Regions from separate parts of the Homo sapiens genome. Here region 1 is linked to region 2. The links come from fine-mapping of genetic effects on gene expression. Tissue or cell type: lung. Region 2 holds a variant in brackets; the other region holds the start of a gene. All regions are shown on one strand. Distances are between the middles of the regions.

Evidence for each region. PIP is the estimated chance that this variant, and not a neighbour inherited with it, causes the effect.
Region 1: PCDH20 starts here. The variant in region 2 is the best candidate, but not a certain one, in a credible set for the expression of PCDH20 in lung (TOPMed, PIP 0.58).

Annotation. Positions count from the first base shown.
Region 1 is chr13:61,413,223-61,418,487 of GRCh38, forward strand. It overlaps PCDH20 (protocadherin 20), which reads right to left and starts at 2,627. Exons shown (of 2, transcript NM_022843.4): 1 at 1,805-2,627; 2 at 1-744. The coding sequence starts at 1,936.
Region 2 is chr13:60,796,101-60,801,365 of GRCh38, forward strand. No RefSeq gene overlaps it. Among named protein-coding and RNA genes, the nearest start is that of LINC01442, 120 kb to the right of the region's middle. The variant C/T (reference allele first, on the strand shown) is at 2,592.

The DNA of each region.
Region 1 (5,265 bases), 620 kb after region 2:
AGCTATGATGATGCTCACATACTGGTCCTGGGTTTCCCTGTCCAAAGCACCCATGACAATTAGGTAGGGGGTGCGCTCCCCATTCTCATTCTCCTCCACGTCCAGGGTGAACATACCATGGTAGTCCAGTAAGCGATAGGTCTGTACCCCATTAATGCCTACATCTGGGTCCACAGCAGGATGCTCTATGGCCAGTCGGGTGTTTACAGGTGCATTTTCCGGGACCCACACCGAGATCTGGGAAACAGGGAACTGCGGGGCGTTGTCATTGATGTCTCTGATGGCGATCTTCACCTTCACAAACCTGAAGTATTCCTGAGGCAGGACAAGCACATCCAGCAGCAAAAGACAAGAGTCAGAAGGAGAGGAGGAGATGGAAACGCTGCCGCTCCACGCAGTCCCTCCACCCCCTTCAACACACAGGGCCTCCCTGTCGATCTCCTGAGCTGAAGTGTGCAGCTCCCCAGAGCGGTTGTCTAGGGTCACGTACTGGCCACTCAGTCCCCGGGAGGCCAGGCTGAAGGAGAGAGGGGGGTTCCACTCAGCACCGGTGCGCTCTGGCAGCTGCGACTGCGGGTCCGGCCTCCCTGCAGACCTGGGCAGCAGCCGCAGGTCCTCGGCCAGGCTGCCGATGAGCACCCCCGCGGGTAGTCCCTCGTTTAGGCTGTACAGAAGCTCGGTGGCCCGGCTGTAACTCCCGAGGCAGCTGAAGGGTCCCACGAAGAGGAAAAACAGAAACAGATGCTGGAGTTGGGGGAGGGAAGAAAGCTCATTACACACACGGGGAAATAGGGGTCCGAGAGAGAAACTAGCGCCCCTGTGATCCTTGCTGTCCCCATCCCCGTTCCCAGAAGCAAAACCTCTAATTAGAACGGGGGCGGAGAAGAACCCTGCTGCGAAGGAGAGATCTGTGGGGCAATATCGTCTCCAAAACTTAATTTTGCTGTTCACTTTCTATCCCCTCCGCCCCCGCCTTCCCCCCTCGTTTCCCCATCACCACCCTCATCCAGCTAACATTCAGAATCCCAAACCGTAAAACATCCCTGGAAACACACACCGGAGTGGAGAGGATTCCGACTCAGAGACTGCGCAAAGCGACACGGAAACCCAGGGTAGGTGATGGGGAGGGAGGGGGCTGGTAGTAGAGAGCACTGAAAGGTGGGCAATTTATTTCTCCTTGAAGTGATTCTGCCATTAGAGTGCTGGAACACGCAGTGTGTTACATCCCTTACTAAGAGAACCATAAAAACAACCACAATCGCAATAATAATAATAATATAGAAAAAATACCAACACTTCCTCCTCCACCTCCAACACTTTAGGTCTTAGGTCGGAAAGAGTGATTTTTATTTTAGCACACATCTGAAATCAAACCGAAAGGATCTGGATTTCCACCCCTTACCAAGCAGTCACTAATCCCCCTCCCTTAGGGGGAAGCAAAGTAAACGCGGAAAATGGCTATGCAAAAACAATTTGTCAATTGCAGTAGGCATTCATAGCCAGACGCCAGCAGCAGGAAACGATCCCGAACCCCTGTAGCTAAAGCGGATTGAGCGCACCCCCGATGCCCTCGACCTTATCTGGATACATTTCTTGCTTCAGAAACTTCCTCTCATGACCCACGGACTTCCCTATTCCTTGTTAAAAGGAAGACACATTATCCCAAACTCCCTTTCCCTCCCGGCGCCATCCTTCCCGTGAAGTTTAGATAAAGGTAGAAGGTTTGAAAAACCATCCGAGTGGGAATTGCTTCACAATACTGCAACTTGTCGGGGTCGCGGGGTTCCTTGACCCTAACCCTTACCGGCAGGTTCCTGTAGCTGGTGCTGCTCCTGGGACGATGTAGACGCCCCATATCCAGGCGCGGGTGCCAGGTCGCCGGGCACCAGCTCACTCCCAGGGCCTGTGAGCTGCGCGCATTCCCTCGGCCGCGCATTCCCTGGGAGGCTGCAGTCAGAGCGCTCTTGAAGGGAGGGCGGCAGAAGACACTCCCTCTCGGTTCATGCAAATCGCTGGGGGAACTTCAGCCAATAGTCACTGGCTCTTCAATTAAGGACGGGAACTCAAAGAGTGGCAGAAAGGCAAGAGGGCAGAAGGGCACATTCATGGTTTCCTGCCCCGGACGCAGGTAACTCCATACTCTGCCAGAGGAGCTGGAATGGGGGACTTGCTCCTGAAGACTGCGAAGAGGCAGCTCGGGGTTGGGCACAGTAGCGCTTACCTACCAGCCTCCTTCCTTGCCGCACCAGTCAGATGCCAAGTCCACAGGTTGCTAGCAAGAGAGGGAGAATTAAAATAAATAAATAAGCTTGCATTTGTATATGGATGTAACAGAGAGAGGAAGTCGGCGCCACAGAGCAATCACAGGCGCGGTCCCAAAACGCCTGCTTTGCCAACAGTTCCTCCTGGAGCCTCGGATCCAGCAGTGTTGGCACAGAGAAAGAAAATGCACTTTTCTCAGCGGAGGGAAGGAATCTCAACTTCTGTGTAACGTAGGGTGAACCGGAAAAGTAAATATATGAATTCAGTGAAGGTTTCGACATACCCCAATTTTGAATCTTTGCTGTGGGCAGTGGTAGAGCTTCTGCTAGTTTCCTAGTTGGAGGCTCAAATGTCTCTGGGTGTTTGCCTTGTGGTCTTATTTTAGAGGCAGTAGTGGCTTCTGGATGCGGGGAAGAGCCAAGGGGAAAGTAGAAACAATTGTGCTGTAACACAAGTAGTTCTGCCTGCAAGTAATCTTAAACATATTTATCTAAGCGGTAAATTGGTGTGGGGAGGGGGAGGTATTCACTGAAGCCTAGGTAAAACATTGGTTATTTTTCAAATTAGTCCTTCCTTCCTTGTTTCCTTCCTTCCTTCTCTCCCCCCCTCCCCTCTTTCCCCTTCCCCCTTCCCTTCTTTCCTCTTCCCTGCTTCCTTCTTTCCTTCCCCCTTCTTTCCCTCCCCCTTTCCTCCTTCCTTCCTTTCCTTCCTTCCCCTTCCCCTCTTCCCCTTCCCCCCTTCCTTTCTTCCTTCCTTCCTCCCTCCCTCCCTTACTCCCTAGCTCCCTCGCTCCCTCACTCTCTCCCTCTTTCCCTGCCTCTCTCCCTTTCTCTCTCTCTTTCTTTCTCCTGGATTGCCTACTGGAAAACTGGTCCTTCATAAAGGAATTGTGGAAGAGTGTGGTGCCAAATGATTGCCTATCTTCTATGGCTTTGACACTGAATAGCTATGTAACCTGGAGTCACCTAACTCCTGGCCTTCTGTTTCCTCATTTATAAAATCAAGGCTAGTGGGATACTCCAGTGCATTAAGCCTCTGAAACACTTTTTGATCTGCAGGTTGCCATGTAAGTAATGGAAAAGCCCATGATTCGGCCTTTCCTTGAGAAGACATTTCTCTTCATCGCTAGGCTTCCAGATATCCTCTGCAGGGTCCTGAACATAAAACCTCACATGCTGAATGACCAGTGACTGAGCCTAGAGTGAAAAAAGGTCTTTGATACCTGATTTCCATATGCTTTCTGTAGGAACTACTTCAATTTTCCCCTTCCACCAAATGCTAACTAGAATATAAATTGCTTGGCTGAGCTAACTGTTTTGCTTCCTATCCTTCCTATTTTCTCCTCATTTCTAATAATCCTAAACACAGAGTCCTAAATATGGACAACACACTACATCAAAACACCTGGAGGGTAACAGCTTGTTATTGTGCAAATGGGGCTGTACATGGAGTTCACAAGTCTCTCTATAATACAAATTTGGCATACAATTTGAACCTGGCTGGTAAAATCAGTTCCTTCAAACCCTTTACAGTGAAAATGGAGCACTGATGAAGTGGTAAACCTCAGCCCCCAATCACCATCACCCCACCCCTCACCCCCCTACCCCTCTCCCACTCCACCTCCTCCCCACCCCACACACACACTCAAAGGAACATGCACATCTGAGTTGAAGGTTGGTAAACAAGCTGCAGCCAGGGAAGCATGATCTCCCTCCTTGTGCTTTTTAGCTGCTGGTTCTGCCCTACAGCTGAACTTTTGCCATATTAGTAAATATTTACTTTGAGGTCTGTAGTTGAAACATACTTGACTCCCCAAATCAGTACCAAGCTGCTTCTGAAACGTGTTTAACTTACATCTTTATACAATACCCACAGCTTCCCGAAGTTGGAGGCCCACGGCCAGAGTTAGGCAATCTGTCAGCAGTCAGAGAACCTGCAGTCTGCAACAATTCTCCCCCAGAGACAGAGCAGCAGAGTGGGCTGTTTATCCGCTCACAGCTCATGCCCTCTGCAACAAGTTAAGATCATCCACCTTTTTGGTGGAAACGTAGGGAGCTATTTTCTTCATTTTTCCTTTGTTATAAGGACATTGTACAGGAGCTGTTGTTTATGATGATAGTCCAGGTGAAGTGACATTTTCTCTTTGTAATTATATCTCAAGTTTTTACTTTTCCCTGGCCCCTTACTCTCCCTTTCCCTACTTTGCAGTGGTTGCTTGTAGTACAGATGCACTTCCTTTTTAAAGTGTTTCCCCCAGCCTACACCAGCAGAATCTTCGTCTTCTGACCCTATCACCCAGCTGGTCTCTGTGGAAAGGGTTATTACCACACCTCCCTTTATTAAGTTGAAAAGAAATTAAATATACCCATTTGGCCATAATTATTCTCTAGAGTGTTTCTAAAAACCATAAACATGAATTATAGCAAAAGTTCTTCATGTAAGTTGAAACACTAGTATTGAACACATCTTGAAAATAATGTTTGGAACGACACTAACAACCACATTTGCTTTAAGTGACTACGGTGATTGCAAAGTCCCTGCATGGAAGTTTGTCATCAAGATTGGGAGATCTTGGCATAATATTGAACAATACCTTCCACGTCGCATTTCAAACCATTCACTGAACTACTTGTTATTATCTTTCCTCTCTGAAAATCCAAAGGTTTTACACAATGTTTATACCCTAATTGGGCTTAAATAAAATAAAAAGGACTAAATAGACATCTTTCTTCCCATGTATCCCTTCTCTGGGCCTTGTGAAAGCATTCCCAAACTCTTATTCCTTATGATGCCAGCCTGCGACCTACCTTCTGGTGTCACATATTTCTAACGATGACTCAGAAAGCTTCTATGCTATTAGTCCCTTGAAAATAATACTTATGAACTTCTTAGACGTCTCAATTGCTCTGGGCCTGCTTCCCACATGTTTTGTAAAAATCGATCTAGAAGAATAGTTAGATTATATGCCTCCCAAGCCTATTTTTCCTATAGACAAGGAAAACA
Region 2 (5,265 bases):
CTCTTCTTAAATTTGGCTCTTATTGAAACTTTTCAGAATAGGTCTTCTTAGCTAAGGGCCACAGATGAGACTTCATGGGATCTGGATATTGTGTGCAAAGTTGCATTGGATTTGAGTTTATGGGGCTGTATCTATGCATGTTTCTTATAGAGGGTTTACTTATGTTCATTCCAATAAAGAGTGGTGAATGGTCAGGAGAACAATTCTTTTGGGATTTCACCTTTGATATGTGATTTTTTAGGCCAAAAAAATGCTCTCAGTAATCCAAGGCATGTTTTTAGTATATAAAATATCTCAGAGGAGTCACAGATTCAAAAAGTCTGAAATTTAACTTAACCTTTTTAATGTATTAGGGTTCTCTAGAGAAACAGAACATACACACACACACACACACACACACATATATATACACATCCCTCAATATATAACACATATATATGTATTAGTATATATAATTTGTTCTGTTAGAATGTATATACACACATATCTCCTTATAATATGCATTATTCTGTTTATATATATACATACACATACACACACGTACACACATATCACTGTTGGTTATTTATTTATTTATTATAAGGAATTAGCTCAGGCATATGGAGGTTGCAAGTCCTAAATCCACAGAGTTGACGTCCTAGTTTGCAGGTTGTCAGGCAGGAGAATTCTATCTTATCTGGGGGAAGATCAGCCTTTTGTTCTATTAATAACTTCACCTTATTGGATGAGGGCCACCCACATTATGAGGGGTGATCCTACTTTACTGGTCTACTGATTTAAATGTTAATCCCACCCAAAGTGGCCCTCACAGACACACCCAGAATAATGTTTGACCAAATACCGGGGTACCCTGTAGTCCAGTCAAGCTGACACATAAACTTAACTATTATGTCTACAAACCTGTTATTCAAGGGTAGATCCAAGTTCTTTGAGGCTTACAGCTTATATAATTGTTTGGAGCTCTCTTCATACATTCATGGAGATCTATATTAATAAATACTTCTATCCTCCCTCATGCAGTTAGCCATTGTAATTTCTGGCTTTTTAAAATTCACACCATGGCTGCAATATTTCTTCATTTGAAAAAATTTATTGATTTATTATATGGGAGGCACTCTGATAATGTTTTCAGGGTTCATATTAGGAGCAGAGAATTAAAAAATAGGAACACAGGAAAAAATCATTACGTCATTGTGTTAAAAGCAACAGGAGAATTTTTTAAGTGGAATGGTGACACATAAGCTCCATGAGATGAGAGTTCTTGTCAACTATTATGTTGTCAGATATACCACAGCAACTTTTACTTAGTAAATGCTCATAAACATCTGTTGACTCGATAATAGTAGTGTTAACTATAATATGTATAATTAATCAAGCAACATCACTGAAGCAATTATTTTAATCTTCACAAAAGTTGCATATTGTAACCTTTCTCTATAAGGAGAAGGGAAAATACATTTTCAAAGTCCAAATCACATTTCTCTCATAGTAATCACATTACTAATATCAATTAGGAGGTATTTCATTTAAGGCAACTGCTGTTAAAAAAAAAATAAACCCTAAATGTGTCATTGCTCAACCATGATAGAAAAATCACTTCTTGTTTACTTATAAAACTGATACTCCTGATTTGTAACTCTTGCCAAAGCAATAATTCAGGGACCTGATTTTTTTTCCTCAATGCCTATATCTTCCTTAGCAGTGGCTTCTATAATTACCATGGTTATCTTTATTAGGCTTGTAGCAGCTGAAGAAATATGGAGAATTATGCCTGGAAATTTTTCATAGGCTAGTCCTATAAGAGTACTTACAAAGTCCTTTAAGATTACTTAAAACTCAGTCACAGCCAAACCTAACAGCCAAGTAGCCCAGGAAAGGTAATCTAAACCCATGTCTAGGAAGAAGATAAAATGGGTTTGATGATCCCAGTCTCTGCTCCAGCAGAGGAAGCCCTCTATTTAAGATTTAGAGATCAACAAAATGACGTAGGTATATGGGAGGCATAGAGAAGGTTGTAAGTCAGCAGCCTCATTGAAGCCTTTGATCCAGCTGCAATATTCAAGAGTTATTTGTGAGATTCTTATAGAAATAAAATCTATCAATAGCTAGCTGCCCTCTCCTCTGTCTCTCAATGTAACCACTTAACGGTTTGAAAAATAAAAGATTGTAAATTGTAAAAAACAAAAATAAAACAGCTTTATGTCATAGATACTGTTATCCTCATTTTACAAATGAGATTAAGACACTAAGATCACACAACTAATATGAAAGTGCAGTGTCTTTCCAGAACACTTTCTTTTTAAATTAAGTAAAAAAATTCCTGTTTATGTCACTCTTTCATTCAGTTGTACTTGACTGTACACTCTTTGAAAAACCCCACCCAAAGAATCACGAAACTGTGCTATCTCAACTCCGTCATTATGGCACCACTAAATCAAGAGAAGCCACCCCAGGCAGACCATGGCAGAGGGCAGGCCAGTGACATCAGGGGATTCCATGGCCTCTGGCTTCTCTCACACTTGTGTTTGGAAATGTGAGTTCTTAACATTAAAAGGGAAAACAGGCCAGTTGTAAGCATGCCACTTTACACA[C/T]GAGCAAACACATAGTGCAGCACACTCAAGCACTTAGCCAGATTTTGAGAAGAGTGTTAGTCATTAAGCCAATAGTGGAAACTGTGTAGGAGAATTTTCTTTAACTTGCTTCTCTATCAGTCCAGAAAGAGAAAAGAGGAAAATTGCGAGAAAGCAAGATTCTTAAAGACGGCTTGGAAAAAATGCTTTTAAAAAGAAACTACAAATAATGACTATGCCTGTGTATTGCTAGGCAGCATTTATTCACTTATGACATTGTTACTGAAATGTAATTCTTACATAAAGTGATTATCTACTGAGCCAGAGGTCCGTGGGTTTTGATTTCTATCCTGACTATATATCCTATTGAGAGAAGCTGTGATGTTCCTTCCATTTCTGAAAAAGGCAGACTTTTTTAGGAGAGCAAGGCTTTGCCACATTAGATATGAAATTGAATAGTTATATAAAATAAGAAATGTTAACAAATTAAAAGTTGAAAACATCCCCAAACACCCCAAAATTTAGAAAATATCAATTTTTAATAACTGCTTTACAGACCTCTAAATACTTTTTCTTATTATTTTTTAGCTGCATAAGTATTGGTACCTTTTTAAATAAAGACAATGATTTTGTTATATGTTTTTCAATACAGAACAGAAACATAATTTAGTCTTTTCATTTTTGAAACTGTTATTGGAAATATAGTGAATTTTGAACATGGTTGACACATTTTGAAAACCACCCTCAAACTTACTCATATGTACATTTTAAGATTTCAGAACCTTTCAAGTTGTTTTATGTATTGATTAATCTTTTTTATTCCTTTTTTTTTTTTTTTTTGAGACAGAGTCTTGCTCTGTCACCCAGGCTAGAGTGTGTTGGTGTGATCTGAGCTCACTGCAACCTCTGACCTCTGGGTTCAAGCAATTCTTCTGCCTCAGCCACCCAAGTAGCTGGGATGACAGGTGTGCGCCACCATGCCCGGCTAATTTTTGTATTTTGAGTAGAGACAGTGTTTCACCATGTTGGCCAGGCTGATCTTGAACTCCTAACCTTGTGATCCACCCATATCGGCCTCCCAAAATGCTGGGATTACAGGTGTGAGCCACTGCGCCTGGCCACAGTGATTAATCTCAAATACTCTTTGAATTAGTGATACTTATGAGCTGGCTTTTTGTCAATATCTGTATTTTATTTTATTTTATTTTTTATTATTATTATACTTTAAGTTTTAGGGTACATGTGCACAATGTGCAGGTTAGTTATATATGTATACATGTGCCATGCTGGTGTGCTGCACCCATTAACTCGTCATTTAGCATTAGGTATATCTCCTAATGCTATCCCTCCCCCCTCCCCCCACCCCACAACAGTCCCCAGAGTGTAATGTTCCCCTTCCTGTGTCCGTGTGTTCTCATTGTTCAATTCCCACCTATGAGTGAGAACATGCGGTGTTTGGTTTTTTGTCCTTGCGATAGTTTACTGAGAATGATGATTTCCAATTTCATCCATGTCCCTACAAAGGACATGAACTCATCATTTTTTATGGCTGCATAGTATTCCATGGTGTATATATGCCACATTTTCTTAATCCAGTCTATCATTGTTGGACATTGGGGTTGCTTCCAAGTCTTTGCTATTGTGAATAGTGCCACAATAAACATACATGTGCATGTGTCTTTATAGCAGCATGATTTATAGTCCTTTGGGTATATACCCAGTAATGGGATGCCTGGGTCAAATGGTATTTCTAGTTCTAGATCCCTGAGGAATCGCCACACTGACATCCACAATGGTTGAACTAGTTTACAGTCCCACCAACAGTGTAAAAGTGTTCCTATTTCTCCACATCCTCTCCAGCAGGAAACAAAAGTTTCCTGACTTTTTAATGATTGCCATTCTAACTGGTGTGAGATGATATCTCATTGTGGTTTTGCTTTGCATTTCTCTGATGGCCAGTGATGATGAGCATTTTTTCATGTGTCTTTTGGCTGCATAAATGTCTTCTTTTGAGAAGTGTCTGTTCATATCCTTCACCCACTTTTTGATGGGGTTGTTTGTCTTTTTCTTGTAAATTTGTTTGAGTTCATTGTAGATTCCGGATATTAGCCCTTTGTCAGATGAGTAGGTTGTGAAAATTTTCTCCCGTTCTGGAGGTTGCCTGTTCACTCTGATGGTAGTTTCTTTTGCTGTGCAGAAGCTCTTTAGTTTAATTAGATCCCATTTGTCAATTTTGGCTTTTGTTGCCATTGCTTTTGGTGTTTTAGACATGAAGTCCTTGTCCATGCCTATGTCCTGAATAGTAATGCCTAGGTTTTCTTCTAGGGTTTTTATGGTTTTAGGTCTAACGTTTAAGTCTTTAATCCATCTTGAATTGATTTTTGTATAAGGTGTAAGGAAGGGATCCAGTTTCAGCTTTCTACATATGGCTAGCCAGTTTTCCCAGCACCATTTATTAAATAGGGAATCCTTTCCCTATTGCTTGTTTTTCTCAGGTTTGTCAAAGATCAGATAGTTGTAGATATGTGGCGTTATTTCTGAGGGCTCTGTTCTGTTCCATTGATCTATGTCTCTGTTTTGGTACCAGTACCATGCTGTTTTGGTTACTGTAGCCTTGTAGTATAGTTTGAAGTCAGGTAGTGTGATGCCTCCAGCTTTGTTCTTTTGGCTTAGGATTGACTTGGCGATGCGGGCT